7 linked regions of the Homo sapiens genome follow. The protein of the gene in region 4 interacts with the protein of the main gene of each other region in a pairwise test. Each region holds a gene or a part of one and is shown on either strand. Other genes may lie near its edges.

The links.
Region 1: the proteins of POU6F2 (region 4) and VEZF1 interact in binary tests that used the Homo sapiens proteins (3 or more experiments, as listed by UniProt).
Region 2: the proteins of POU6F2 (region 4) and STRA8 interact in binary tests that used the Homo sapiens proteins (3 or more experiments, as listed by UniProt).
Region 3: the proteins of POU6F2 (region 4) and RAD23B interact in binary tests that used the Homo sapiens proteins (3 or more experiments, as listed by UniProt).
Region 5: the proteins of POU6F2 (region 4) and CIB3 interact in binary tests that used the Homo sapiens proteins (3 or more experiments, as listed by UniProt).
Region 6: the proteins of POU6F2 (region 4) and EIF4EBP1 interact in binary tests that used the Homo sapiens proteins (3 or more experiments, as listed by UniProt).
Region 7: the proteins of POU6F2 (region 4) and HNF1B interact in binary tests that used the Homo sapiens proteins (3 or more experiments, as listed by UniProt).

What each region holds. Positions count from the first base shown.
Region 1 is NC_000017.11:57,974,489-57,978,871, forward strand, and holds part of VEZF1 (vascular endothelial zinc finger 1), read right to left. Parts: intron 413-4,383; coding exon 1-412. UniProt on the Homo sapiens protein: Possible transcription factor. Specifically binds to the CT/GC-rich region of the interleukin-3 promoter and mediates tax transactivation of IL-3.
Region 2 is NC_000007.14:135,246,954-135,251,336, forward strand, and holds part of STRA8 (stimulated by retinoic acid gene 8 protein homolog), read left to right. Parts: intron 1-4,383. UniProt on the Homo sapiens protein: Meiosis-inducer required for the transition into meiosis for both female and male germ cells.
Region 3 is NC_000009.12:107,299,955-107,304,337, forward strand, and holds part of RAD23B (UV excision repair protein RAD23 homolog B), read left to right. Parts: intron 1-186; coding exon 187-268; intron 269-2,080; coding exon 2,081-2,160; intron 2,161-4,383. UniProt on the Homo sapiens protein: Multiubiquitin chain receptor involved in modulation of proteasomal degradation. Binds to polyubiquitin chains.
Region 4 is NC_000007.14:39,340,985-39,345,367, forward strand, and holds part of POU6F2 (POU domain, class 6, transcription factor 2), read left to right. Parts: intron 1-4,383. UniProt on the Homo sapiens protein: Probable transcription factor likely to be involved in early steps in the differentiation of amacrine and ganglion cells. Recognizes and binds to the DNA sequence 5'-ATGCAAAT-3'. Isoform 1 does not bind DNA.
Region 5 is NC_000019.10:16,170,241-16,175,352, reverse strand, and holds the start of CIB3 (calcium and integrin-binding family member 3), read left to right. Parts: upstream 1-1,827; 5' UTR 1,828-1,877; coding exon 1,878-1,928; intron 1,929-2,156; coding exon 2,157-2,191; intron 2,192-5,112. UniProt on the Homo sapiens protein: Acts a an auxiliary subunit of the sensory mechanoelectrical transduction (MET) channel in hair cells. Plays a role in regulating hair cell MET channel localization and function.
Region 6 is NC_000008.11:38,054,108-38,058,156, forward strand, and holds part of EIF4EBP1 (eukaryotic translation initiation factor 4E-binding protein 1), read left to right. Parts: intron 1-2,973; coding exon 2,974-3,153; intron 3,154-4,049. UniProt on the Homo sapiens protein: Repressor of translation initiation that regulates EIF4E activity by preventing its assembly into the eIF4F complex: hypophosphorylated form competes with EIF4G1/EIF4G3 and strongly binds to EIF4E, leading to repress translation.
Region 7 is NC_000017.11:37,685,855-37,690,237, forward strand, and holds the end of HNF1B (hepatocyte nuclear factor 1-beta), read right to left. Parts: intron 1,539-4,383; coding exon 1,518-1,538; coding exon of another isoform or gene 1,426-1,517; 3' UTR 577-1,425; downstream 1-576. UniProt on the Homo sapiens protein: Transcription factor that binds to the inverted palindrome 5'-GTTAATNATTAAC-3'. Binds to the FPC element in the cAMP regulatory unit of the PLAU gene. Transcriptional activity is increased by coactivator PCBD1.

The sequences.
Region 1 (4,383 bases), on a different chromosome or scaffold from region 4:
GTAGGCAAAGCTTGGGGCAAGAAAGGCATGCTCTCTACAGGTCTCATTGCTATATTGAGAGGGGCGGCTAATGTCATAGGTGTGGGTAGATTCATTGGAGATGTGATGGTGACAGGGTGTGCTATATTCACTGGGGCAGTGACGGGGGTGGGGAGGTTGACTGGGGTAGTGAGTGTTAAAGGAGAGGTCATGGATAATGGACTGGTTATAGTTACAGGATGCCCTATGTTCATTGGGCTGGTTATGTTAACTGCACTTGAAACATTTACTGGACTTCTCATGCTCATTGCAGCTGCCACTGTGACTGGGTTTGACATAGTCCCAGACGACACAGAGGATGTTATACTGAATGGAGTAGTGAGAGTCACAGGTGTCGTAGCAGCCGTGGAGGTTTGGCACAGGTTAGCAGCTTCTAAAATAAGAAGAAAAAGGGTCTTTAGATTCTCAAAACAGTGAGCAAAATTCACAAAGTTTCTGAATCAATTTCTTTTCATTAAAAATGTCAAACATTTAATAAATCAAATTCCAGTTTTCTATCAAGCGGTCAACAGAACAGAGGATCTTTCTGAGCACAAGCCTGGGGGCCAGGGATCCCAGTGTATGAATCACCTTCTGATGCTATACCTCCTGCAAGGACTTAAGCAACTTGTTTAGCCTTGCACTTTAGGTTTCAAGTTCAGATTTACTTACCTACCTCACAGTGATGCTGAGAGGATCAGTTAACTTCTGCAATGCAGGGCTAAGTGTTCTCACTACTACTTCATGCAGTTCCTCTGAGTTCTAAAAACTTTCTTGGGAAGAGCCAACCTCCAGCAGGCCAGGCTAAAGAGCTTGTTTACACAGAGCTGGGCCAATGGTTACACAATAACAGATAATCAGAAAAATCTTCTCGTAAGGCACACTGTAACTAGCAGAGAGAGGTGTGCATACTCAATAAGTATGTTAAAGCCTGAGACATGAAGCCACATTCTGTGAAGGTTTTAAAAATGCATAATTGGGGAATGATAAACAAGCTATTTTAGTATCATGTTTGTTTCAGTTTTAGAAATATGTTTCAGTTAAATAATCTTATTCTTTCTGGTTATGTTTCTTAACTACATTAGGAAAGAAAAAAATACTCCTCAATAAGTTCATGTTCTCCTCACTCCCATTTCTTCTTGTTTCTGATGTTGACACAATCACCTATTTTATGCCTAGTATCTTTAACTCTACATATTACACATACCACCAAGCATACCAAAGAGAACTAGCTAGGCAAGGAGACCCTGCAGTGAGTTAGAGGACCCTGGTCCTTCTTATCCAACAAAACCTGGACACTTTTTTTTCTGAGACAGGGTCTCCTTCTGTTGCTCAGGCTGGAGTGCAGTAGCATGATCAAAGCTTACTGCAGCCTCAAACCCTCAAGGCTCAAGCAATCCTCCCACTTTAGTCTACCAAGTAGCTGGGACTACAGGTGCATGCCATCACGCCCAGCTAATTTTTGTGTTTTTTGTAGAGACTGGGTTTCGCCACGTTGCCCAGGCTGGTCTCCTCCTAGGCTCAAGCGATCCGTCCACCTCAGCCTCCCAAAGTGCTGGGATTAAGGTGTGAGCCAGGTCTAGACACTTCTTAAAAAATACTTCCCCTCAAGGTGACATCCCCAACCCACCCCTCAACAAAATTCAGCACCAGAAAACAGCAGTAAAATGATGGGTAGGCTAGCTGTGACTTGGCTATCAAAATGGAGAAATATACTTGAACTAAAGATAGAGATCTGTATATGATCCACAAAGGTCTTATCACCGCAGGGGGACCCTTGAGTCAAGCAGCCCTTACTTGATCAATACAATGTAACTTTGGCACACACCATTCTCCCTATCAGGGATTCCCAAATCTGGCTGATTATCAAAATCAACTATCTAGAGGACTTCAAAACAAACAAACAAACAAACAAAAAAAACCCAACAAAACAAAAACAAAGGACTCCAGGAGAATCAATAGTGAAATTTAGATGGAACTTGGGAAATGTGTATTTTTAAAAAGCTTCCCAGACAATATGATTGTCGATCAGGTTTGAAAACTTATGTTACCTTATTTAGGCCTAATATTTAAAGGACGTTATAGATTCAAGCTTAGATTTTCAGGTCAGGAGTCTCCTCTCCTCTAAAATGTGACATTTACTAACATGAATACAGAGGTTTCTAAGATCAGTGGTCTTTTTGAGAGAGATTCACGCTACAAATGGGAATACAATAACATTTTGTTTCATGGAAGTCAGAAGATGAGCTAAACAACCAAGTCTTATTGTGCAAGCAAATTGAAATACAATACCAAATAGAGGAGTACACCGAGAGAGATTGAGAGAGAAAACCAATTCACTTTAAGGTGCTGGGAGTATTGCTGAGGATATTCTCCACCTGCTTTCACCAAAGAATTTTTACTCTCTTATCTGCTGACCCCCTTACCTCCTCCTCCGTGTTTTCTTTTTAATCTAAGAGTGTCCTTTTACTATGACTTAAACATTTTTACTCCTTCTCTAAGTAAAATACCCTTCATAATATACTTTCAACCCACTATACAATTATCACAGCACTACACTTTTTCCTCCCCATTGCCCGTCCCCTCTCCCCATTCTAACACAAAAGTTCATTTGTTTTGTTTTTTTTGAGATGGGGGTCTCAATCTGTTGTCCAGGCTGGAGTGCAGTGATGCAATTGTAGCTCACTGCAGCCTCAAACTCCTGGGTTCAAGTGACCCTCCCACCTTAGCTTCCTGAGTAGCGGGGACTACAGACACGCACTGTCACGTCCGGCTAATTTTTTGTTGTTGTTGTTGTTTTTGTAGAGATGGGGTCTTGCCATCTTGCCCAGGCTGGTCTCAAACTCCTGGCCTCAAGTGATCCTCCCACCTTGGCCTCCTGAAGTGCTGGAATTATAGGTGTGAGCCATCACACCTGGCCAAAACATTTTATTAAAATAATGACAAATCTTCAGATGGAAGCTAGGAACAAGCAGCACCTGAGGAATGATGAAAAGCCTATACGGACTGCTGCATTCTTTTCTTCCAATGCCAGTAAATGTATGAAAAAGAATGTCGCCAGGGCCCAGTAGCTCACGCCTATAATCCCAGTACTTTGGGAGGGTGAGGCGGGCAGATCACCTGAGGTCGGGAATTCGAGACCAGCCTGACCAACATGGAGAAACCCTGTCTCTACTAAAAATACAAAATTAGCTGGGCGCGGTGGCACATGCCTGTAATCCCAGCTACTCAGGAGGCTGAGGCAGGAGAATCGCTTGAACCTGGGAGGCGGAGGTTGTGGTGAGACAAGATCATGCCATTGCACTCCAGCCTGGGCAACAAGAGCAAAACTCCATCTCAAAAAAAGAAAAAAAAAAAAAAAGAATGCTATTCCTTTTATTTTTATCCAAGTATAGGAGGTTTAGAGATCACTCTGGCCAGGTGTGGTGACTCATGCCTGTAATCCCAGAACTTTAGGAGTCTGAGGCGGGTGGATCACTTGAGATCAGGAGTTCAAGACTAGCCTGGCCAACATGGCAAAACCCTGTCTCTAGTAAAAATACAAAAATTAGTCGGGTGTGGTGGCACACACCTGTCGTCCTGGCTACCCGGGAGGCTGAGGCACAAGAATCACTTGAACCCAGGAGGCGGAGGCTGCAGTGAGCCGAGATCACGCCACTGCACTCAAGCCTGAGCAACAGAGCGAGAGACTCTGTCTAAAAAAGAAAAAAAAAAAACAGAAGGGATCACTCTGAGGAAGGGAAGAGCCACACTACATGAAAGCAAAAGATGGAAGAAACTACACAGAAAAGGAATTACATACAGAGGAGCCCACAGATAGAGGATTCCTTAACATTTAACATAGTAAGACATTGTAGAGGTGGAGGAGGAAGAAGGAATTTACAAATCTGTCCTTTGGCTCATGATACATTGACAAAATGATTCATTTGAAATGGCTGCACAATAGTCCAGAAGCCAAAGCTGTACTAGTAAGTTGAAAAGTACGTTGAAAACTGATACTCCAACTGATTCGTTAGAAAATATACACGAGAGAAAAGCAAACCATTTAAAATTTTTTAAACAATTACAGTAAAGTCCTCAGCAGCAGAAGACTAGATATGTTAAGGCCAGCCAGTGATAGACTGAAGGAGATTAAGGGTGTGACCAAGAGAAAAGACATCAACACTACAGAATCTGAAACATGTAATAAATAATACAATGAAAAAGAACACTACAGAGCAAAAATAGCACAGTTGTAAGAAAATGAACTTATGTACACACAAGGATATCCACCTCTAAAAGTGGGAATATTTTAGAAAGGAAAAAAAAAGCCCATAATGCATGGAGGTTGACATCAAATTGAATATAAAAATGCAACTCTGAGCA
Region 2 (4,383 bases), about 96 Mb from region 4:
CCTGCCTCAGCCTCCCGAATAGCTGGGACTACAGGCGCCCGCCACCACGCCCGGCTAATTTTTTTGTATTTTTAGTAGAGACGGGGTTTCACTGTGTTAGCCAGGATGGTCTCGATCTCCTTACCTCGTGATCCACCCGCCTCGGCCTTCCGAAGTGCTGGGATTACAGGCGTGAGCCACCGCGCCCGGCCGGTTTCTGATTTTCTAATCCCTGGGGTCACGGAACAGTATTTGTTTTTCTGCGGTTAGTTTCCTGGCCTTTCCCTGGGGATGGCAGAAGACAAGTCTTGAGAGGTTGTCTCAGTTGGGATTCTTTGGGCTGCCAGGGCCTGGATTATTAAACCACGAAGAAATGCACTCCTCACACCCGGGGAGGTCCGAGGCAGGCAGAGGAGCTCACCATGTCCGCGTGGATTCAGGCCTCTCTTGGCTCTGCTCAGTTTCTTATCTTTCCCTGCCCTCCCCACCTCCTCCGGCTCCTGTGGCTATGGAATGGCAGCTAGAGCAATCGAACTGTCTTTCTTCCTACTCTACATCAGGTAAGACAAAGATTTCCTACGAAAGCTCTTTCTTAAGAGTTAAGGAAGAACTTTTCCGGAACCGCTCCTCCCCTCTCATTGGTTGGAACTGGCCAAATTGCCAGCCTGCTGAGCCAATGACTGGCCATAGAGGGAATCACACTTGGACCAATCAGGTCCAGCCCTTGAAAGGCCGTCAGTTCCCACCCCAAAGAGCACTGGGATCGCTCTGTGAAGGGGAGGTTACCACAACTGCTACCGTAAATGCATTTCTCAGCTTTCAGAACGCTAGTCAGAATGGCCGTGGCCATAGTCTGCAAAGCAGAGCATCAGGTAGCATTTGAGGTCGCCCTGCACGGAGATAAAAGTGGGCCCACAGCTGCTCTTCCAGTATGAGGACGGCCTCAGAACACTGCTCTACCACACGGCCCACGCTCGCTCCTCTAGCCCAGGCGCAGCCGATTCGCATTCTGCACATGCCCTGTGCTTCGTGGACATTTAGCATCCATGGCTTCCGCCTGATACAGGCCACCCCCTTGCCCTGACTTTCCAAATGCTCCTCAGTCGGGGCGCCTTTGAGGAGACGACATGCTAGTTTCCCAGAGTCTCTCTGTGGAGCCTTAGGGCCAGAGAGCGTCCGATTGTCTCTGACCCTGGAGTTACAGCCCTGGAATGCCTCCGTTTTTTAGAAGGTTCCTCAGCTATCAGGCCCAAGCCTGGAGAACGACAGAGATGTCACCCATTCCTGTCCTTCCAGTTTGCAGGCCTAACCAGCAGTGTGACTTGCCCAGAACTCCCAGCTCCTGCTTCAGTGACTGTGTCTCTGTCATCACACATTTTTTCACATTACTCTGCCCTTTGGTCACCTGTTGATGGTCAACCCTCCATTATCTCCCCTGATGCTTCTCAACTGAATCACCTGTGGAGTTTTTTTTTAAAGTCAGGTGCCTGGCTGGGCGCAGTGGCTCACACCTGTAATCCCAGCACTTGGGGAGGCCGAGCAAGGTGGGAGCAATGCTTGAGCCCAGGAGTTTGAGACCAGCCTGGGCAACACAGTGAGACTGCGTCTCTACTAAAAACTAAAAAAAAATAAAAAGGTGTGGTGGTGGTACACCTGTAGTCCCAGGTACTCAGGAGGCTGAGGCAGGAGGATCCTTTGACCCCAGGAGGTCAAGGCTGCAGTGAGCTATGATTGTGTCACTGCACTCCAGCCTGGCAACACAGCAAGACTCTATCTATCCCAGACACACTGAATCAGAGCCTCTGAGGGTGGGGCCTCAGGAATTGCATTTTTAACAAGCTTCCCTCGTGGCTAGTGCAGTAGGTCCTATTGGAGGGAACTCCCAGTGCAGATGTTCAATGGCCTACCAGCTACTGCCTTGGTCCTTTCCCCGACCCCCGAACATGGGTCCACCAGACTGTGGCTTCTGATCTGGTTTTCCTCTGATGTTGGGTCCACCATGAGAAGACATGCGTTCTGTTCCATGATGGCTCAAAAAAAGCCAGAAGATTAGGACCTCATACCCAAGGCTTGTATGAAAGGGCAGCCAAACAGATGTGTTTACAGCCCCAAAGTGCCAAGCCCTGGAGTCTCACATGAAGAAAACGAAAGGAAAATACAGTCATGGGCTACATAAAGATGTTTTGGGCAACAACAGACCACCTATACAATGGTGGTCACATAAGATGATAATGGAGCATATATGGAAACCTGATATATGGCACTCGATATTGGCATTGCACATCAAGTAGGGTAAATAATTGATATTCAGTAATGGAACTTGGATTTTTGGTTTTCCATATGAAAAAATATATATAAATAAATATATGGGCTGGGCGTGGTGATGCCAGTCTGTAATTCCAGCATTTTGGGAGGCCAAGGTGGGTGGATCATCTGAGGTCAGGAGTTCAAGACCAGCCTGGCCAAAATGGTGAAACACCATCTTTACTAAAAATACAAAAATTAGCTGGGCGTGGTGGCGAGTGCCTGTAACCCCAGCTACTCTGGAGGCTGAGGCAGGATAATCGCTTGAACCTGGGAGGTGGAGGTTGCAGTGAGCCGAGATCACACCATTGCACTCCAGCCTGGGTGACAAGAGTAAAACTCTGTCTCAAAAAAGAAAAGATAAATATATGTATATATGCCATCTAGGTTTGCATAAATACACTCTGTGATGTTCACATGACAAAGTTGCCTAAGGACACATTTCTCAGAACTTATCCCCATCAGTAAGTGATGCATGACAGTATCTACCAAATGCCTGAGCAATTCTGCCAAATTTGACTGTGCCAGCACGAACACTTCCCCAGGAAGAACACATCCAAAGAGAAAACAACCAGAATCTAATGTCTCCAAATCATGGAAACAGCTTTTCTGGGTTTTTCAGGGAGGCCTATGGGCTGATGTTTGTTGGGTATTAAGGGAAGCTGGCAGCAGATTCCCTCAGCTGTGGCCAGAAGCAGGGCTCTGCCTGCACTGCTGTGCCCAGGTTTAGGCCAGGCCAGGGCTGGGCGATAAGGTAGGCAGAACAGAGAACTCCCATGCCCGAGGCAGGGACAAAGCCACAGTTACTCCTGCTGAGCAGTGACACCACTGCAGCCCCTGGTCCACCTGGAGAGGTTCTGCTGCAGAACTGTTGTGTTAGAGGCCAGCAGCACGGTCAGATGGGCCCAGGAGGCTCTGGAATGCTCCATTTCAGTTCAGACATGAGCTTCCCTGTGAGTGTGGTGGCACTCTGGAAAGGCTGTGGAGCCTGGTCTGGGGTCCCCTCTCAGGCTGGCTTGTGAGGGGGATTTGCACAGGTGAGCACAATGTGTGGCCTGCGACTTTGGTGGGCTGATTGCTTAAGGACAGGGATTTCAGTTCTGGGTCCCTGTTTCAGGCCTGCCAGGGAGCAACATGTAGCTGATAGGCTTCAGAGCTGATGGACACTGAAGCACAGGTCTTTCTGTGGCCCCTTTCCAGATCCTCTTTGAAATGACCACAGAGATATCAAGTAGAAGGACAACAGAAAATGTCCGGAAAACTAAGAGAGGGGCCAGAGTCCCAAGGGATTCAGTTCCAGGAAGTCAATTGAAGGAAGACAGAAAGGGCAGACACCAATCCTCTTGGAAGAGCTGTGTGTTGCAGGAAGGGAAGAGGAGAGGAGAGACCCTGGCGGAACCTGCCAGTACCTGCCAACTCAGGGTCAGAGAACTTCCTCTCCTCTCCTAGGCGTGATTGCCAGTGCAAAGGAGATGTCAGTTAAAGTAAAGCATGCCCAGTTCAATTTTTAATACAAAAACGTCCCATGCATGATTCAAAACATTCTTATACTAAAAATTATTCATTCTTTATCTGAAATTCAAAATGTAACTAGGCATCCCGTATTTGTATTTGCTAAATCTGGCAGTCATGTAAGTGTAAATCATGTTTCTGTAACATATTTAATATTCTCTAACACATTAGGGGGAAGCAGGATGAAAAACTGTCTAAATAGCAAGATTCCAAATTGGAAATATATATTATAGACCTAGGGAAGTGACTGGAGAGAATTAGATCAATGTGTCAACAATGGATATCTGGGTGGGATTGTTTCTCAGTAATTCTTATTTTCTTGATCTGTTTCTATTTTCCAAAATTTCCACAATGAACATGTATGTCTCTTATAAAGCAGATAATGTTCAATTATGTGCCAGGTATGTCTGTTATAAAGTGGATAATGTTCAAATGTAACTAGATACTTCACATACATTATCTTACTTAATTCTTGGAATAGCCCTATGAGTAGACACTAATGTGATTCCTGTTTTATAGAGGAGGATTTGTGAGATGAAGTAACTTGTCCCAGGTCACACAGCTAGCAAGGGACACAGGCCTGGGAGT
Region 3 (4,383 bases), on a different chromosome or scaffold from region 4:
ATCATAACTAGTAATATGAGTTAATGTTGAATCTTTTTTGATATAAATTGGAAAAACATAATATTTGAGGTTTTGGAAACATTAATAATTATGTATATAATTTTTGTCTTCCATTATTTATTCAGATTCTGGATTGTCATTTTTTATTTAGACTTTTTCCAAAACAAATCTTTATTTTTCCTATAGGTGAAAGCACTGAAAGAGAAGATTGAATCTGAAAAGGGGAAAGATGCCTTTCCAGTAGCAGGTCAAAAATTAATTTATGCAGGTATGAATTAAATATTAAAATTAACATGCCATGTCTTGATATTCTTTTAGTTTTAGAAATGTTATCTTATATATTGTAGTATATTCAAATTGTCAGAAAAATGATTGTACAAATAAAAGCAGTGAAAGAGCAGTCATTTGAATCTAATATTAATATTCAATCTTCTCTTTATTCACATTTGCCCTGTGTATTTTTCCATCAAATGGTATTAGTTTTGTTTTATCTTTTGTAAGCATCGTGTAACTGGCTTTTGTTTTTTTAATCAAACGGAGCTTTTTTTTTTAAATTGAATTGAAACCATTTATACTGATTGTGTTATTATTAGTATGCTTGGAATCATTCCTGTAAAATTATTTTAACCAAAACTAACTGAAGAGTACAGAAAAAACACATCACACAGACACCTACAGGAAGAAAAAAAATTAATATTCAGATTATGTAAAGAATTCTTAGAAATCAGTAAGGAAAGGATGACCAATAAAGCAACAAAGGATAAGAGTAGGAATTATACATTTGACTAGCCTCACTAATAACCAGGAAAATGTATATTAAAAATACATTTGATATCCAAATTTTTAGAGAAAATGCTTTCATTGTAGATGTTAGTAAGGTGGGTGTTTGATCACCCATGGATTCTTCTCTTTTTCTGAATAGTGTTTCCTAAAGTGAGACAGCCTGGAGGAAATGCTAACCTGGTGATTCAGTCCCATTATTTTTATAGGTCAGAATTCAGAAGCCTAAAGAAGCGGACATAAAATTCAAATTTCCAGTTTCTTGTTTTGGCCTGTTTTCTCATTCCTATCCATATTCCTTTCTGACTTAATGTTAGCAGCTTTTGATTCAATAGCTTTTTAAAGGTGGAAAACTAAATTCATGTAGCAAGAAACACTAGAGAGTCCTAGCTACCTAATAGTGACCTTCAGCACGACCACAGTTTTGTGTACTTCGTGCATTTCTAAGTTCTGTAGCATCTTGCCCTTTCTTGTGTATCATGTCGTTTTCTGAAGTACTTTTAGTATCTTGCTTTGATAGTGTTAGAACATTTCTGATTTATCAGATATCAGTATTTTGGGGAGCAGGAAATTTGTTTCTCTCCCTTTCTTCATATCATAAAAGAATATAGGTTATTTTCCAGAGGACCCCTGTGCAATCGGAGTATTGAATTTTCTTTATCTTCATGATCTCCTCCTTTTCAGGGCCTCTTTCATATTTCCTTGCCCAGTAAGTCTTTTATATAATCAATACATTTGTAAAAATTGATTGTCATTCTATATACACTATATAAGTTTGACATCTTTTAGTCAAATGCTTATGCTTTTTAGTTTTATTTGTTTGAGAGAGGGTCTTGCTCTGTCACCCAAGCTGGAGTGCAGTGGTGTGATTATACTCGCTGTATCCTTGAACTCCTGAGCTCAGGTGATCCTCCTGCCTCAGCCTCCCAAGTAGCTAGGACCATAGGCATGTGCCACAATGCCTGGCTAATTTTGAATTTTTTTTTTTCATAAACAGGGTCTTGCTATGTTGGCCATGCTGGTTTCAAACTCCTGGCCTCAAGCTATATTTCCTCCTCAGCCTACCAAAGTGTTGGGATTACAGGTGTGAGCCACCATGCCCTGCCACTTAGGAGTTGTTTTATTTTTATCTTGATTGATTGGTTTTTCTTTGGGAAAAGTATTAACTGATAGAATTTATGTTGGTGATTCATATTTTAATATTTCTGAAATATTCATATTTCGAGTAGAAAGTTGTTTTAACTGAAGTGTAAGAGAAAGATTATGCCTTAAATGATTTTTTTTTCTCTTAATGTATTAGGCAAAATCCTCAATGATGATACTGCTCTCAAAGAATATAAAATTGATGAGAAAAACTTTGTGGTGGTTATGGTGACCAAAGTAAGTTTCAACCTCATTCTGTATATCTTTATGCATGTAGGTCTTTTTAAAAATGATGATCACAAGTCCACACAATGGACACAGTTTATACACATCCATAGTGGTGTACACTTAACTACTATGAAAGGTTTTTAAGAATTTACCTTAAGTGAAACATAAAGTTATTAATGTTTTACATTAATTACACATTAAACTATAATATAGTTTTAATAAAATTTTATGTAAATTAAAACAATTGAAAAATAAAATGTCATGTTAAAATTATTTTTGCTACAGTAGTGAAATCATTATATAATTCTTTTAAAATGTCTTTATAAGTGGAATAAATGTTTATTCTGTAGTTTTTGTAAGCTTGCCTTAAATAGACCTGCTAAATTACGTACTAGTCCTAACAGATTCCTCAAGACAGAAAAGGCATGAAAGCTTATTATTACAGTGATAGTTCTTAGTGAAAGAATATGTTTTTAGAAACTAAAAAAAGGGAAAAGATAACTAAAGAAATGATGGAATGATTTTTATGAGGAAGTTTTTTTTGTTTTTGTTTTGTTTTTTTTTTTTTGAGACGGAGTCTCGCTCTGTTGCCCAGGCTGGAGCGCAGTGACGCTGTCTTGGCTCACTACAAGCTCTGTCTCCCGGGTTCATGCCATTCTCCTGCCTCAGCCTCCCTAGTAGCTGGGACTACAGGCGCATGCCACCACGCCCGGCTAATTTTTTTGTATTTTTAGTAGAGACAGGGTTTCACCGTGTTAGCCAGGATGGTCTCGATTTCCTGACCTCGTGATCCGCCCGCCTCGGCCTCCCAAAGTGCTGGGATTACAGGCGTGAGCCACCGCGCCCAGCCTGGAAGTTTTAAACAGATACTTTTTTGTGATTTAGTAGGCTGGAATGTATTTGGAACAATTTATAAAATTAAATTTTTTTTAAAGCAGAGAATGAACATGGATTTTTTTAAGAGACTATTTATATACTTGTTTATTTAAAGATATATAATGCAGTGTAGAATTAAGAGACAAATGGAGAAGTGGTACTCATGACATTCATTTTTAGGATTGGATTGTCATAATCTGAGAAAGAACAGTGTTACTTGTAGCACTGAAAATGAGTTTAAATCACTAATTGAAACCACTTCATCAAAGGCCAAAAGTGGATTAAATGTGGGTTTTTTCTCAAAGTCACAAAATAGTTAATAGTAATAGAAAATAGAGTCGAAGAAATAAATTCTAATTACCACATGCTTTTGTACTGGGAGCAAGCAGCTAAATAGTTTACAAGTGTTGAACATTTTTTAATTCATTAAGAACCATGTTGATTTTGCTATACTTAAGAACTTAAGTCATTATATGTTAAGTTTAAAAACAAGCAGAATCGTGAGGAAACCTTGTATCATCTAGGTTTTTTTATTCAACTGTGGTAAAATATAACAAACTTCCAGTTTAATCATTTTAAGTGTACAGTTCAATAACATTATAGTTACATTGTTTTGCAGCTATCACCATCATATAAGTGGAATCCTATGGTATTTGTCTTTTTGTGACTGGCTTATTTCACTTAGCATAATGTCATTGAGGTTCATCTGTCTATGTTATAGCTTGTGCCAGAATTTGCTGAACTTTTAAGACTGAATACTATCCTATTTTCCTATCTAGTTTTAGCATACATAGTACATAATGGGAAATGTGATAGCCACACATTTAAATATGTTTTGTTACTGGTCTTAGTTTCTTTTAATATTACAGTGATCCTGACTGTTTAGAACACAAGAATTAAGCAGAAAAAGTCTCAATAGGTGCGTGTGTTTGAGGAATAGATACTTGAAGCCTATCATTATATTGCATACAGTCCTTTTGTTTTTCCTTAAAGTCTTTTATTCCTAATATTACATAGGATTCTAATGATATTTATGATTGTTTTATTTGAAGTTAATAGAGGACAACTATGAAAAGGGAGGGAATGCTGCTACAGTAAGGCATTATGGAAGCACTGAGAAATGACCTTATTAATACAAAGAAGGGAAAGGAAAAAGCTATTAAGATCAAAAGCAAGAATAAAAACTAAAAAGCAGAGAAGGGCTTGGTACTGTTTAGAATAAAGTATAAGTAGCTGTTCTTGGCAGTAGGAACCTTGAAGGGAAGTTACATTGCAATATTATTTTGATAACAATTAAGGAAAATATTAAATGAGTATACCACTTTTAAAAATACATTTTTATCTAGATTGGTTATT
Region 4 (4,383 bases):
GAGCAGCCTGTGGACCTGTTTCAAGTGCCATCTCATCCCCTTGCCATAGTGGTGGGTATAAACCTCAGTCAGTCCGGCTCTCCCCAGCCTGAGAATGACAGTAGCGATGGTATCCTTGGCTCCTAAATAGAAAAGTATACAAAATAAAGACAGGTTGGTACACGGACAGAAAGGCAGGTGGATTAGAGACTTGGTATTTTAGAACTTAGTTTGTTGTCCCATAGCTTTGTCTCTTCCAATTTGGATTCTCAGTGGTGTGGCCCAAAGCATTCCTAGAAATGAACACATTTGGGAGAGATGAGTCATTGTGTTTTTCTGGGCTCTTGGGCCAGGGCTACTTTCAATTTGAACATTTTCATGAGTGGAGTTTCAAGATGTATTTATACAATTCTTACGATGGTGAGACAACGTAACACCTTTGACCTAGGACTAAAATGAACATGGTCCAAAAACGTCTTCATTGTCCACTTGACACCTACTGAAAGAGCAGGTGTCATCAAATTTACAGAAGGCATGATTACAGCAACCTTAATGTTGGCAGCATTTGGGATTCAACTTTATTATTCCAAAAAATTAATTTAATGCTTTTTAAGAACACTTACATTAGATGTACCTATATACCATCTAATTTCTCTATTCCAGGCACCAAAATAGGTAAAATTACCAAAGAAAAATATTGCCCTTCCTTGAGGAGTGAAATTACTTAGGTGTGTCCCCAGTTGTCCGATATAGTCCAGTATTCCTTCCTGTTAGGTGAAAGTTTTGAGCTCTGTGGACCTCAGCCTTCCCTGAACACTGTCAGTGTTTTATAAATTTCTGTTGGCCAGTGAGATCCCAGTGAAGACAAGCCCTGTTGAATGACTGTTGACAGGACTTTAGATGAAGTGACCACGCAGCCTCATGAAAATAAACTTAGGGGAATTTCCGAAAGTTCTCCTAACAGTTTCTCGTGGAAATCCCAGGGCTGTTTGTTTTGTTTTGGTTTTGCAACAAATGAAGGCTCAGAGCTACATTTCTTTCTTTGTAACACTGAGAGAATATTCTAATTTTTCATTTTTGAAGTTTTAACTTATAAACTTAATAAATATGTTTAGAGTACATTTAAATATAGAGGAGCTGTTACTCTAACTTCTGTGGATCTAACAGATGACCACCAAATGAGTGACTTGCTACAAATTTTTTTTAAAACATTACTGAGAAGATGTTAAACAAATCTGTGTCGGTAGGCATAAAAGGACTTTTTTCCTTTACTACAGGCATGTATAAAGGAAATAGAGAATATTTTGGTTTAAAAAAAATTTTTACACTAGCTGCAGGCTTTTTGAGTTTGTGGAACATGGAATGTTTGAACTTTTTAAAAAGAAAACTGTTTAAAAGGAATTGCAAAGATATTTAACTCTCCAAACTAATGATCTTTATAAAGTGTTTTTGTTTGAAGATTATTAAGGGAATAAAGATCAACTAAATTCATGTATGATAGCCTAAATTTTATTTTACAACCCTTTATTTTCATGTGGGCTTTATCTTTTTACATTATTCAAAAATCTGCTGGAGAGATATTAGTTTAGAACTATGCAATGTAGATTACCAGGGAAAGCCAGTCAATTAGGTTTTTTGCTTTAAAAACAAAACTTTGGAGGACAACAATTATTTCTAAAACTGTGCAGATGCTCCCATATCTTTAGAAAAAAATAAATGTAAGTAGGTTGTGTGTTATATTTGGGTGAGGTCATTTCCTGAGATGAAAAAAAATTAATAGTGTTGGTAGGTAGTAACACTCTAAACAAAAATTATCCAAATACCTCGTATCAGGCTTTTCTGCAATATTGCAGTGTAATTTTATTTTACTCTTTTACTGAATTCTGTGAAAAGGATTACATTTACAAAACCAAGTTGTTTTAAGATAGATAGGAGTCTAAAGTATTATCCTTTCAGAGACGCACAGGTAGGGGGATCACTTTGTTTATTAATTTTGATCACTCAGCATTATAGGAGGTCTGGTGGTCTAAAGCAGACTCTAGAAGCTGCCCCTGGAGATCTGTCTATAGATTCTCCATTGAGACTCAGGACCCACCCACCCATGGCTTCGTTCTTGCCCAGGAGGCTTGAGGAGAGAAGTTCTAGACAGGAAATGCAAGGGCAGAGGTCTTCAGGGCCTAGCAGTCCCTGTAAATAAGTAAAGTAATCTTGGTTGTAGAACCCAAAATCAAATTTATAAAAACAGTGTGTGGGACAAACAAGATGCACTGTGAGCTGAATTTAGTCCTTGGGTGCCAGGATGGAGAGCAGTCCATACTCCTTATTTTTGCTCAAACCCACAGTCCACAGGCTGTGCCTGAATCTAAAACTAAAAATATAGACTGTGTTTGATAGAAGCAGAAACATAAATGGAAGCAATCTTTTGGGGCAAAAAACATGATCTAGGTAAAAAAAAAAAAAAAATTCAATACGTAATTTTAATCTGGATAGAGACCCCATAAGCATAAGAATGGTGAAATAAAAGCCTCCTTTCTATGACCTTTAAGAAGAATTTTCTTGAAAAGAAAACTCCTTGGGAGTTTTTATTTGCACTGGTAAAATTTCAGACATCTTATAAAAGCCCTATTGTGCACATATTCCCTCTTGAGTGGTCTGGAGATATGCTGGGCATGGTTGGAGCCCAGTCATGGTGTAGGTGGAAGAGGGTAACCGGAGGGCTTGAGTCCCCCTTCTAGTTCTGACCCTGCCTCCAACTAACTCATAACTTTGGATAGGTCACTTTAGCTCTCTGGACTTCATTTCCCTCATCCGTGTGGTCTGAGGTCTTTTTCAGGCCTATGAATCTATAATCTCAATGTTAGTAGGCCTCTGGAATTTTATTGGCTATTGAAAACTTGATGGTCCTGAAGATTCTCTGAGTATTCTTCAAGGTCAGGTTAATTTCTTCCCACTCAGCTGGGTGGCAGAGTGAAAAGAGAGTGGAGGACAAACATAAGTGGGATAATGATAGCAGAAGCAGATTTTATCTTAGCCAGAGAGTCCAAATTAAAGTCAAGTTTTTATCCTCAGAGAGTCACTGCTATAAGCTCTGGTCCCAGATTGCTTTTCCACACCTATACATTAGAGAAGCTTAAGAAACCAAATGCTGCATTTAACCTTGGCCTCCCACGTACCATCTTGCATGGCAGGACGCAGGATAATCTTTTCCTTTTCTTGTTCTATTGCACATTTTAATAAATAACAGAGGGAGAGAGAGATCAGTAGGAATTGGACAGTGAAAACTATCTGTGCTTATATGAGGAATGAGGGGCACGGTCACCTCCTCGGAGGTGAAGTTGCTTGAGAGCGTGAAATGTATTCTCAACCATGTGCATTTGCTAATGGAAAGGTCTAGTTACCACTCAGGCACAGCAGAGTAAAACTGCATCGGAATCCCACCTCTGTTGCGCAGTGGGCATTGCCTTCTGGTCTTCCCATTTGAGATATTTTCCCACTGGCAAACTTAGTACTAAGTTCCAAAGTGCATACATAATGGGAGAAGGTGGTACATTATCACTTTTTAAAATAAAGAGCCCAAAGCCTTGGGAAGGAGCTAGACCTACGGGACTTTCAAGTTCTCTAAAGCAAATGGTCTCCAATCATGGGTCTGCCCTATGGAAAAGACCCAGTGTCCTAGGCCAAACCCCCTCCCCCCCCAGCAATTAGTCTTAATCGGTTTACCACAATATTACTCAAGGCTCTGTGGGACTAGGTTTGTTTTTTCATCTATAAAAGGGAGGGGGTAAAATTAAATACTTTCTAGAACTCCTTCAGTTCCATTGGAGTTTTATGTTACAAACCCCTAAAACTGTGTAGAGTTGGGTGACTCTGTGGGTGTATTCATATAACTCCTTTGTGTGGCTACTGTAAATATAGAACTCAGACATCTCTCTACCTACACAGGGCTAAATCACTACGCAGAATTCTCCTAGCCAGGACTGAGATGATGGTGAGGCTTGGAAGCACTCATCTCAGATGCAGAATTTAAGGGTGTACTCAAAAATTCAGATAATGTTTGAATGAAATATTTTCAAAAATCAAAATGAACGCCAAAAGTCTATGAACAACAAAATTTCAAATTTTTAAATGCAGGATCAGTAACAGTATTGAGCCATATTGGAGTCTGAGGCAAAAGAAAAAAATCAGTCATATGAACATTTAGTGATCATGAATTTTTGGCACTCATTCTTAAAATATTGTAGTAAGGTCTTATTCATCTTGATTACTACGTTTCTGGACACACCTTTAAATTTGGTTCCTGAAATGAGTGCCTCATTCATCTCACCCTCATCCCTCTCAGCTTTGCTACTGGCTGTCTAAATGATTTAGTTAGCAAAAATCCGCCAAAGTCAATGACATTCTGTC
Region 5 (5,112 bases), on a different chromosome or scaffold from region 4:
CCTGTCTCAAAAAAAAAAAAAAGTCATCCTTGAGGCATCTTTCAAGCCTGATCAGGGTCACATTTTACAAGATGACTGCACAGATTTGGCAGAGGATGCTTGATGAGGCCGAGGCAGGAAAGCCTGCTGGGAAACATTGCAATAGTCCAGGCCAGGTAGAGAAAACACAGGTGAGACCCAAAGTGAGAAGGGCATGGAGGGCCAGGCTAAGAAATTTAGACTCTCAGATTCTCCACCCAAGAGGATTCTGGGCCTTAATAAAGTTGGTAGCTGCTACATTAGATCTGCCCTTTGGGCCGGGCGAGGTGGCTCACACATGTAATTCCAGCACTTTGGGAGGCCGAGGCGGGTGGATCACCTGAGGTCAGGAGTTCGAGACCAGCCTGGCCAACATAGTGAAACTCTGTCTCTACTAAAAATACAAAACTTAGCCAGGCGTGGTGGTGGGCGCCTGTAATAATCCCAGCTACTCGGGAGGCTGAGGCAGGAGAATGGCCTGAACTCGGGAGGTGGAGCTTGCAGTGAGCCGAGATCACGCCACTGCACCCTAGACTGGGTGACAGAGCGAGACTCCGTCTCAAAAAAAAAAAATACAAAAAAAATTAGCTTGGCATGGTGGACACCTGTGGTCCCAGCTACCTGGGATGCTGAGGCAGGAGAATCACTTGAACCTGGGAGGCAGAGATTGCAGTGAACCGAGATCACACCACTGCACTCCAGCCTGGGCAACAGAGTGAGACTGTCTCAAAAAAATAAAATGTAATAAAATAATAATGTCAATGCACACCCCAGAACTTCATCTAGCTTGTTCACCATTATGTTCCCAATGCAGTGATGCAATCATGGCTCACTGCAGCCTCAAACTCCTGGGCTCAAGCAATCCTCCCACCTCAGCCTCCTGAGTAGCTGGGACCACAGGCATGCACCACCACATCCAGCTAATTTTTGTATTTTTAGTAGAGATAGGGCCTTGCCATGCTGCCCAAGCTGATCTTGAACTCCTGGCCTCAAGTGAATCTCATGCTTTGTCCTCCTAAAGTGCTGGGATTACAGGTATGAGCCACCTCGCCCAGCCAAAACCTTTTTTTTTTTTTTGGAGATGGAGTCTTACTCTGTCACCCAGTCTGGAGTGCAATGGCGGGATCTCGGCTCACTGCAACCTCCACCTCCTGGGTTCAAGCAATTCTCCTGCCTCAGTCTCTGGAGTAGCTGGGATTACAGGCATGTGTCACAATGCCAAGCTAATTTTTGTATTTTTAGTAGAGATGGGGTTTTGCCGTGTTGGCCAGGCTGGTCTTGAACTCCTGACCTCAGGTGATCCGCCTGCCTGGCCCTCCCAAAGTGCTGGGATTACAGGTGTGAGCCACCTTGCCCAGTCAAAACCTTTTTTTTTTTTTTTTAAATCTCAGATCCTGAGAATGACCCTATGAGGTAGGTATAATGTAATTTTCATCTCATGAATGAGGTTCAGAGAAGTCAGGTGACTTGCCCAGGGCCACACAGCTAGTGGGCAGAGAGCTGGGATTTGAGCTGCAGTGTGCCCATAGCCCTTCTGTATACCCTGCCTGTCTCTTGAGTGTGCCCCATAACCCCAGCCTCACCTTGTGGTGGCAGATGTGGCCTCCCCACTGAGGTCTTCTCTGTGACATCCCACAGCCCTTATCCTTACCCATGGACACATTCAGGCTGTTGTCCAGAGAGCCTGGCTGTAATTTGAGTCTCATCAAGCAGGGGGTGATGGCGTAGGTGGGTGGGTGACAGCCAGGGCAGGGAGATTTGCCCAGACACTGGTACACAACAGCCTGGCAACCCGTGTGGCCCCGAGGAAGCTGGGAGCCTTTGGGGTGCATCCCCAAGTCTGGGCTGTGGTTCACACCATGGGCAACAAGCAGACAGTCTTCACACACGAGCAGCTGGAAGCGTATCAGGTAGAGGGGGGCAGGATGGGTCCTCAGTGGGTTTGACAACTTTGGTTCCGTGGTCTGGGAAATGGGAACAGAATGCCTTCATCTGGGTGTACCGTCCGCCTGGGTTCCTGGTTCTGCTCTGTGTGTGGCAGCATCAGGCCATCTGTGTGAGTGTGGGGTGGAGGGAGGAGGCCGTGGGAGGAGGCCCCAGAGGCAGGGTTCGGGTTAAGACAACACCTCTCTCCACAGGACTGCACATTTTTCACAAGGAAGGAGATCATGAGGTCAGTCCAGGGAGGAAGGGAGAGAAGATCTGGAAAAACAACTTTCTATTCATTGCTGGAGGATATTTGCAATTTGGTGTGTGTGTGTGTGTGTGTGTGTGTGTGTGTGTGTGTGTGTGTAAGTAGTCTTTCTTTCTTTCTTTCTCTTTTCTCTCTCTCTCTCCCTCCCTCCCTCCCTTCCTTCCTTCCTTCCTTCTTTTCTTTTTTTTTGAGACAGGGTCTGTCTCTATTGCCTGGGCTGGAGTGCAGTGGTGCAATCATGGCTCATTGCAGGCTCGATCTCCCAAGGTCAGGTGATCCTCCCACCTCAGCCTCTCGAGTAGCTAGGACCACTGGTGCGAGCCACCACATGTACCTCATTTTTGTATTTTTTTATAGAGATGGGGCTCTCACTATGTTGCCCAGGCTGGTCTTAAACCCTTGGGCTCAAGCGATCCCCCTGCCTCAGCCTCCCAAAGTGCTGGGATTACAGGTGTGAGCCACCATGCCCAACTGGTATTTCCAATTTGTTGGGACTCAAATGGGGAAGGGGGGCAGGTGTGGTCAGTGGACAGAGGCAGAGATGGAGAAGCTGACAAGTCACATCTTGTCATACTGTCCCAGTCTCTAGGCTGATGAGCTTGGGCTTTCTCCCAAGGGTGGCAGGGAGCTATGGAGCATGCATGAGCAGGGGAGAGACCATCAGCACGTTAGAAAGATTCTCCTGAGGCTGGGCGCGGTGGCTCATGCCTGTAATCCCAGCACTTTGGGAGGACAAGGTGGGTGGATCACCTGAGGTCAGGAGTTTAAGATCAGCCTGGCCAACATGGTGAAACCCCATCTCTGCTAATAATACAAAAATCAGCTGGGCGAGGTGGTGGGTGCCTGTAATCCCAGCTACTCAAGAGGCTGAGGCAGGAGAATTGCTTGAACCTGGGAGGTGGAGGTTGCAGTGAGCCGAGATCACGCCACTGTGCTCCAGCCTGGGTGACAGAGCTAGACTCTGCCTCAGAAAAACAAAATGAAAGATAAAGATTCTCCTGAGACTGGGACTTGAGGCTGGGAGCCCAGGTGCAAAGTCCAGAGCCCAGTCTGGGTTGTGGGCTTGGCATTAAGATGAGGGTGTGAGGAGGTGGCCCAAGGCTGCTGCAGGTCCCTGGCGTGACCCAGCACGATGGGCACAGATGAGTATCCCACATCATCACTCGGCCTGTGGGGCCATTGCCCAGGGGCCCCGACCCATGAACTTGGAGCTATGAAACCCAAGCTGGCCAGGGTTCAGCTGCAGTGTGATCGGGGCCAAGGCCCCAGTTGTGTAGTAACAGGACATCCATTATTGATGGCCACACCTTTTACTAGTGAGCCCCATTGTTTGGGTGAGGACAGCTTGCAGGGTCACCTCGGCCATCACGATCAAATTACTGATGGGGAAACTGAGGCTCAGACAGGGCGGGGCTGATCCCAGGCTGAAGGGTAAATGCACAGAGCCCCAAGGCCCCAAGGACAGACATTTTGTCTGTCCCAAGCTTCTTGCTTATCAGATAGAATAACCAAGGCACAGAGAGGGAGAGGAGAGGAACATGCTCAGAGCCACACAGAAACCTAAACCCAGGGTATTCCCTGATGGGACCCCGACAGGGAACTGAGTGGTCAGGATGAAAGTTCTAGGTCTCCCCACCCCACCTTCATTGAGTTCCTAGTCATCATATGACCTAGGGACTCATGTCTCTCTCAGAGACAGTCCCTAGCAGCTTGGGGACCTCAGACCCACCAAGGATGGTCTCTGCAAGGCTGCTGCTCAGCATGCCCTAATGAAGGTATGGTGTCACAGGTGAGGGCTTCTGAGTGGAGAACTGGCCTTATAATCTGGATAGTGTGTGTGGTATTCAGTTATTTGCAAAATATCTTTTGTCTGCCCTTTAGAAAAAATGTGACTATTAGCTGTTTGTCTCTGCTCTGCCCCATTGAGGAATCCCTCCTTTTTTTTCTTTCTTTCTTCTTTTCTTTCTTTCTTTTTTATTTTTTATTTATTTATTTTTTTTATTGAGACCGAGTCTCATTCTGTTGCCCAGGCTGGAGTGCACTGGCTTGATCTCGGTTCACTGCATGCTGCGCCTCCCGGGTTCACACCATTGTCCTGCCTCAGCCTCCGGAGTAGCTGGGACTACAGGCGCCCACCACCACGCCTGGCTAAATTTTTATATTTTTAGTGGAGACGGGGTTTCACCATGTTAGCCAGGATGGTCTTGATCTCCTGTCCTCGTGATCCACCTGCCTCGGCCTCTCAAAGTGCTGGAATTACAGGCGTGAGCCACCGCGCCCGGCCTCTTTCTTTCTTTTTTCTTTTCTTTTTTTTTTTTGAGACAGAGTCTCGTTCTTGTTGCCCAGGCTGGAGTGCAGTGACACGATCTCAGCTCACTGCAACCTCCAGCTCCCAGGTTCAAGTGATTCTCCTGCCTCGGCCTCCCGAGTAGTTGGGATTACAGGTGCCCGTCACCACGCCCAGCTAATTTTTTGTATTTTCAGTAGAGATGGGGTTTCACCATGTTGGCCAGGCTAGTCTCGAACTCCTGACCTCTGGTGATCCACCCGCCTCGGCCTCCCAAAGTACTGGGATTACAGGCATGAGCCGCTGCATCCGGCCTCTTCCTCCCATTATAAGGAGAGGAAGGGAAGGTATGAAAGTGAAGGTATCTTTGGAGGCAGGGTCTTGCTGATAACATGACAATATCCAGAGATGTGTGGATTATATAGGATTCTCTGAATGCTTGCTGTGATCTGGCCATAAGCACCCTCCCTTCTCCCAACTCCATCTGCTTTAGAAGCTCCTACTCATGCTTCAAAGCCCAGAACCAATGTCCCCTCTTCCAGGAACCCCCTTCTCCTCGCTAGCTTGCTTCCCCCAGTCCAGTCTCCCTTTGTCCTGTGGCCCTCTCTGCACC
Region 6 (4,049 bases), on a different chromosome or scaffold from region 4:
TTTGAGACTGTTGAATCTTTAACTCTTAGGTTTCACGCTATGATAAACAAACCAACAACAACAAAAAAAGTGTGGCTCATGTCTGTAACCCCAGCACTTCGGGAGGCTGAGGCCAGTGGATCACTTGAGGTCAGGAGTTCAAGACCAGCTTGGCCAACATGGTGAAACCCTGTCTCTACCAAAAAATACAAAAATTAGCCGGGCGTGATAGCACATGCCTGTTGTCCCAGCTACTGGGGAGGCTGAGGCGGGAGGATTGCTAGAACCCAGGAGGCAGAGATTGCAGTGAGCCAAGATTGTGCCACTGCATTCCAGCCTGGGTGACAGAGCAAGACTCCATCTCAAAACAAACAAACAAAAAGCAAAGTTGGGGGGAAACAAGAAGGGGGGCACTCTTGCCGAGTCTCAAAGATTAAGAAACAACAGAAAAAAAGTGGTCCCATCTGGAGCCAGGATGTCCAGCCACTTGTCCACTGAGTCCCCACCCCGCTGCCTGGACCCTGGGGTCTCTGGGCTTCCCTCCCCTCTGGGGAGGAGAGATTGTACAACCCCAAGCCTTGCAGAGTGGAGCAGTGCCACATCTGGCCTCTAGAACCAAAACAAATCTGGGTCACTTTTTAAAAAAAAGAGTTAGAAATTGGTCTTCCCTTACCTCCCCTCACTGTCACCCCAGCCCTGCAAAGAGAGGGCACCACTGCTCTCCATTTGTAATCTGGGCTCATAGGCACTCAGACCTAGAAGGTGCATGGGTCTTTATTTTACAGATGAGGAGATGGAGGCCCAAAACAGGGGGTGCAAGGAGCAAGGTGCATAGGGTCACACAGCTGACTGGGAACGGAGCCCAAATGCACCCTGGTTCTTTACACCCCTCCTCCTAAGAAACAGCTGTGCGCTGGAGTCCCATAGGCAATGAGCAGGGCTGTCAGCTTCAGTATCACTGCCTCTCCTGCAAGGGGACAGGAGAGTAAGACCAGTGACTGCCTGGAGGGGCCACAGCCAGACTAGAGGAACACAGCCAGCAGGTGAAGTTTATCTTTAGGTATCTCTCTGCATTCCTCTGCCCTTCAGCATCTCACGTCATCCTCAGCACAGAGCCCCGTTTCAGGAACTCACACTCAGACTCCGAGATGGAAATTGGTTCCTTTCCAGGGGTTTACAGAGTCCAGTGCTGAGCATCAAGAAATGAATCTCAATATGTACAACTATTATGGATCCATAAAAATTAAAAATCAAAAAAGTAAAATAAAGTGTAAGAAATGAATCTCAGCTGTTGGAATGCTACTCATCATAGCCCCTAAGTGAAGGAGAGATTTCAAGGTTATTGCTAAGGAAGGGCATTCCTGAAGTCCTTAAATCATGATTCCCAAACTTGGGTTATTCATATTTTATCTGCACAATTATTACCATACCTTGCATTCCACTTGTACAGATATTTAATATTTCTTTATATCACCTTAGCTTTTGAATTTAATTTACATTATTTTATTATAGAATCTATAATATATTATTATATTATTGTATATTAAAAGGAATTGCTATCACTACTATATATGGAACACCGGATTCACTTGCCATAAATAGAAGGTAGCTATAAAAAGATACAAAGGGGCCGGGCACGGTGGCTCACACCTGTAATCCCAGCACTTTGGGAGGCCGAGGCAGGCAGATCACGAGGTCAAGAGTTTGAGACCAGCCTGGCCAACATGGTGAAATCCCGTCTCTACTAAAGATACAAAAAATTAGCTGGGCATGGTGGCACGCACCTATAATCCCAGCTACTTGGGATGGTGGGGTAGAATTCCAAGGTCAGTGACACACTGGCAGGACACACTGGGGGCCTCACAAAGGAGGGGCTCAGCAGGAGAGCCCACCCTTCACTCCTGCCTCTGGCTCTTCTCCGCAAAGCCCAGGCATTTCTCTCTTTTTTTTTTGGAACTGTCTTTTTGAGATAGGGTCTCACTGCAGCCTGGACCTCCTGGGCTCAAGCAATCCTCCCGTCTCAGCTTCCCGAGTAGCTGGGACTACAGGCACGTACCCATCATGCCCGACTCATTTTAACATTTTTGTAGAGATGAGGTCTCTCTAAGTTGTCCAGGCTAGTCTCAAGCTCCTGGGCTCAAGCAGTCCTCCCACGGTGGCCTCCCAAAGTGCTGAGATTACAGGTGTGAGCTACCACACCTGGCAAAAGTTCTTATTTTTACTACTCTGGTTGAATCACAAGTATTTTCTGTTTGGTCATTTGTAAAATGCAGCTATTCTGGGTATCCCACAGGAGTGCTGTAAGGACAGGACTGAATAATGACTAGAAATGCATTTTTTCCACCGTGGTATGTGATTGTCATGGGTAATTAACACTAAGCCCAGGTGGGTGAGTGAGCTGAGGGGCTATAGGGACAGAGCACAGTGTGCACAGAGCTCTGGGAAGACACAGGTGCAGTTGGTGGCCTGCAGACCCCTTCCATTGGATCATTCCATGTGAAGGGGAGTTGGGGCCGTTTGGAGGTAGCAGAGTTCTGGGTGGCAGCCAGGCCCCCAAATAAGCCTCACTACTCTGGCTTTTTTTTTTTTTTTTTTATGAAAAGGAGTCTCGCTCTGTTACCCAGGCTGGTGTACAGTGGTGCAATCGGCTCACTGCAACCTCTGCCTCCCAGGTTCAAGTGATTCTCCTGCCCCAGCCTCCTGAGTAGCTGGGATTACAGGCTACCACCACCACGCTGGCTAATTTTTGTATTTTTAGTAGAGACGGGGTTTCACCATGTTAGCCAGGCTGGTCTCGAACTCCTGACCTCAGGTGATCCACCCATGTTGGTCTCCCAAAGTGCTGGGATTATGGGCATGAGCCACCGCACCCAGCCTCCTCTGGGTTTTTCAGGAGAATCTGCTGCCTCTACTGCAGCCACGCCTTTAAAAAGTGGAAAAACCGGCAGGCAAGAGGCTGCAGATGGCTTGACCAACCTCCCTGTTCCCTTCTAGGTACCAGGATCATCTATGACCGGAAATTCCTGATGGAGTGTCGGAACTCACCTGTGACCAAAACACCCCCAAGGGATCTGCCCACCATTCCGGGGGTCACCAGCCCTTCCAGTGATGAGCCCCCCATGGAAGCCAGCCAGAGCCACCTGCGCAATAGCCCAGAAGATAAGCGGGCGGGCGGTGAGTGTCGGGGCTTGGCCAGGCTCTACCTTGGGAAAGGGAATGTATGAGGCTCCTGGAGTCCATCCACTGGGGGCAATTCCAGGGAGGAGGAACAACAGGGACTCTGCCCTACCCTCTAAGGAGCAGCTCAGAGCCCAGAGGGTGAGAGTAGGGGTGGGGAGGTTGAACTCTTCATTGGTAGCAACTTTCCCCCTGAAAGGGGCCCAGGCACCTCAGGAAAGGTGATCTGGCACCTTTGGGTCATGTAATTAGCGGGGAGTTTGTTTGAAATGGCAGCGGCTGCACACAGCAACTTTCGTAAGCATGTGCCTCTGTATAATTGTCTCTGAAGCATTTCCACTTGGAACACACCCATGATGTTTGTGGTGCAAGAGACAAGTTATCAAAGACACAGTGTACTTGTCCTTTGGGAAATTATATGTCTACAAGATAAGAAATACATCCGGGATGCCTCCTGTTGGGCTGTTGGTCCCCTAGTGGATCTTCATGAAGGCAGGTAGAAACAATGCAGCCAGTTGTCTCTGCCGATTTGACATTTGGTAGCTGGGTCCTTCCTGCTGTCCCCACCTCCCGAGTAATTAGAGCAGCCACTGTGGTAGTGGTGTAAGTGAATGCACTCTTTGTGGCATCCTGACTGGCTTGGCAGAGTGTTGGAGTTCTCTGCTGCAAGATGATGCAGCATAAGCACTTCCGGGCAACTATAATCAGATTGGAACCCGCCGACCCTTCACCCGGAAGGCCGTACCCCAGGCCCAGACAGGAAGCAGCAGGGACCTCAGCTTGGCTGGCTCTGCTAACAGCAGCAGAATTAATCTCCCCAGGGCCTGCAGGACATGATTCATAATTACCTTGGGAACCTCACAGTACAAGACAGACAATAGTTGCCTGTGTCT
Region 7 (4,383 bases), on a different chromosome or scaffold from region 4:
GTGGAGTCTCTGGGCCTTTGGCTTTTTACTGTTTGGACTATTTGTATTCCTTAGCATCCCCACCAGAGAGAGAATCTTGGGCAAGAGGTGACGTCCACAAGAGCCCATTCACTTAGTGACTGAGAGCTGTAAGGGAAGGAAAAGGAGGGCAGGAAGAAAGGCTGGAATTAATGCTTTAAATGAGGCTAAACAATTTACCCGCAGAGTTTTCATTCATCCTACTTTTTGTCTGTTTCTATCACATGTCACCCACCAAGAATTGACTCTATGACTTTACCCCTGTGAGTTGCAGGGAAGAAAAGGGTGCTAGCTCCTGCTCTGGCCAGATTCCCTCTGAGCGACTTGTGGAGTCTTACTGGGGGATTCAACTCTTCTTCACCTCAATCAGCAGTAAAGCCTACACAGACACTGGGAGCATGACGGCAAGAGAAGGCCACCCACCTCTCTACACCCCTAGATGACACACTACAGGATCCCAGTGGAGTATACAGAAAATTCCAAGGAGACCAGGGGCCAGGGGTTCTCGGTGGAACCATGGCAGGGAAAGTATCAGAGACAGAAATATGAGACTCTGGGTAGTGATAAAATAAATTGTTTTAATGGAAGGCTTTCTGAGACTGCAACTTTTTCTTCTGCTATCAAACAGCCAGTTTCCCTGCCCTGGGGTTTCTTAGGGAGTGCACGGCTGAGCTCCTGGCCCACAGGAAGCTGGCATGTTACTCTGACACACTACATTCAGCCCCTCCAGGGATCCAGAGGTGTGTCTTAATGTCAGGAGACTGGAGTTAGCTGGTAGTCAGTCCAAGGTATGCTGTCCCCATAAGTGTCCAGGCCCGCGGGAGAGGACAAGGGGCTTCACTTCCCACTTAGGATGTTTCTCCATGAGGGGAGAGGGGACAGATCACTTTTGAAATTTTGACTCTGACCTTTACAAAGAAAACTAATAGACACTTTAGTATTATATACAGGGCAGAGGGGAGAGGACACAGAGGGGAAATTGCACTTAATTACAGTAGTTTATAGTTTACAGCCATTGGACAAATTTACTTCTTTAAAAGAAATCTCAAGATCATTTGGGATGGGGGCAGGGGAGGGAGTCTGTGGATATTTACAGTGTGTTTGGCTCAGTTCAATAGCACATGTCCTTCTCTCCTCATTTCAGTAACAGATTCAAGTTTTCGCATCAGTTTGTTCGATGAAGGATCACAACATAGACAGTACGGCTTTCTTGCTTCCTCTTCGGAGGTTCCTTGTCTCCCACCTCCAGGACAGACAGGAGTCCTTGACATCGTGGGAGAGGCATTGTGGCAATACTGCATAGAAGGGAAACTGGGCTTCGGGCTGCGCCTCCTGAGAGTGGATTGTCTGAGGTGCCAGCAGGACGTCCGTCAGGTAAGCAGGGACCTCTCGCAGGTGCTGGTCAGGTCACTGGGCTTTTCCATGACAGCTGCCCAGAGGGTGATGGTGTGGAAAACAGGGTCCTTGTTGTTGCGCACGAAGTAAGTGGTGTGTGGGCATCACCAGGCTTGTAGAGGACACTGCAGAGAGAGAGGAGAGAGGGTGCTCAGCTGTGTCATTTGGCAGGGTCATGGGCCATTAGTTTGGCTTCTCTAAGGGAGATGATGCCCAACTCAACCAGCAAAGAGCAGCAGGTGGAGGGCTGGGGGCCTCGTGTCTGCTCAGTTCTGCAGTTTTCATGCTGAGGCACACTTCCTGCAGGAAAACCCGGGAGCCGGCTTTCCTGGCCACTTCAGAAGAAAGAAGTGAATTGCTGGGGACCTTGAAGTAGTCTTAACTTGCTGACCTGAATCCTGAAGCTGGGCTCCTCTTTCTGTGACAGTGGCATTTATAGAGTGCTTAGTGTACTTGAAAAGGCAGCTGGATGGTGAGCTCTTGCCTCTCGTGGAAGCAAGGGTCTCTTCCTAAGACCGCTAAGAGCAGAGGCCTCCTATACTAATGCTTCTCGAACTTTAACGGACCCACAAGTACCAGAGAGCCTGTGAAAATGTGGATTCTGGTTTAATTCTGACTTGTAGGCCTGGGGTGCACCTAAGAGTCTGCATTTCTAACAAGTTCCCAGGGTGTGCCAGTGCTGCTCACCTAGGGCAGCAAGGCCAGAAAGCACACGAGAAAATGACCACTCAAACTACTCATCAGGAAGGAGCTTTGCAAATTGCAAAGTGCTTTCTACGGGTTTCTTACTTTAGCATAAGAAACTCAGAGGACCAGGGAAAGGATCCAAAGGCTGAAGGCCTCTGATGCCATCCTTGTGGGTGGGCCAGGGCAGGAGACCCCAGAATGGCTGGAGAAGCCCTCGAGAGAAGCCACCTCACCCAACTCAGGGCAGCCTTGCCCTCCAGTGCCTGGGCCTTATTCATTTGAACTGTCATGGAGTGTCACTGCTTTCCTTTTCACTTCTGGGGAGTCTCTTTTTGTCTCCCTGTGTCTCCTCCTTCCCTTTTGCTTTTGCCGGCATCTAAGGTTCTGCCTTTGACTTAGTGGCTTATTCTCTCAAGATCCCCCCAAACACACACACACACACACACACACACACACACACACACACACTTACACCTACCAATACCACTAAAGGCCACTGTTATCGCATTGATCAGTGCTCCAACCATAACCCTATATGAGGATACCATTATGTCTATTTGACAAATTAGGAAAACAAGGCTAAAAGAGAGTCAGTGAATTGTCCATGGTTTAAGAACTAGGAGAGTGTGGAGCCACAGCTTCAAACTAGCTGTCTAGGTGGCCACTCAGCATGTGCTCTTTCAATCATGCTTGGAGGTGAGGAGCCTTCTACTAAGCTTTGTGCTCTTGGACAAGTTACTCTCTCTGTGCCTCAGTTTCTTCCCCTATAATATGGGAGTTGTTGTGTGATTAGATGAGTCAACACCTGTGGAGTCCTGAGCATGGTCCTTGGCACAATTGTTATTATTAACATGGGGTTCTTCGGCCCAAGCCCCTGCTGCTCCTCAGTACTCTTAAGAGTGGGGCTGAAGGCCTGGCGCAGTGCCTCACGCCTGTAATCCCAGCACTTTGAGAGGCCAAGGCAGGTGGATCACAAGGTCAGGAGATCGAGATCAGCCTGGCCAACATAGTGAAACCACATCCCTACTAAAAATACAAAAATTAGCTGGGCATGGTGGTGCACACCTGTAGTCCCAGCTACTTGAGAGGCTGAGGCAAGAGAATCGTTTGAACCCAGGAGGCGGAGGTTGTGGTGAGCCGATATTATGCTACTGCACTCCAGCCTGGGCGACAGAGCAAGACTTGGTCTCACAAAAAAAAAAAAAAAAAAAAAAAAGAGGGGGGCTGAGCAGTGCGTGCATGTGAGGAGACAGGCTTCTGACCCTTCCACATTCTTGAGACGTTGGTCAGGGTCCTCTGATACCCTTTGCCTCCTCTTCCTCCCCTGGCCCACCCCCACTCTCAAGTCTCTTTACTTCCCACTATCAGCCTTTTTCCAATTTTCAGATTTCAGGTGGAGGAGAGAGAAAACGGCTTGTGACCTTGCAGGTTTCAAAAGAAGAGCAAACAAGAAGGGCAGATAAGGAGACGCCAGTGAGATTCTATGGCCTGTCATTAGGGATGGGCTTCCCAGCTATCAAATGTTTGCTCACATAATAAAATGGTGGCAGAGCCCAAAATGTTGTCAAAAGAACTAGAGTTATTTGCCTCCTTCAGAGTCTAAACACAAACATCTGATAAGGGGTGCACTGTGGTCCCTTAGAACTGGAGGCCCAGCACACGCAGCCCCACGGGGGCCTGGCCCAGAAGATCTCTGAGAGACCGCGGGGCCCTCCGTCTGAAAGGTGTGGTAGCTGTGGCAAATGTGAAGGACATCCTTATTCTAAGAGGATTTGTTACATAATGGTAAGAGCTAACATTTATCGACATCCTACTGTGTGCCAGGCACCATACCAAGGGCTTCACAAGCATCACTGCCTCGAGTTCTTACGTCGACCCTTTGAAGTAGGTGATTATCGTGAATTCATTTAACACGTTTGAGTGCCTACTGTGTACTTGGCACTTTTTTAGACACTGGAGATGCAGCTGTAAACAACACCCTGCCCACTTCTTCACAGGCTTTACCTCCTAGTGAAGGCTTTGAATAATAAACAAGTAAACAAATGCGTGCACACACACACACACACACACACACACACACACACACTACAACTTTAGGTGGAGATGAGCACTCCATAGAAAAATAAGCATAGAGGTTAGGGCAGCTTGAGGAAAAAGAGATTAACTTAGATATGGGAATCAGGCGAGGCCTCTTTGAAATGGTAACATTTGAGCTGAATGAAGTGAAGGGGCAAGCATGTAAAAATGCACAGAAAAAAAGAGCTCCAGGCAGACACCACAAAT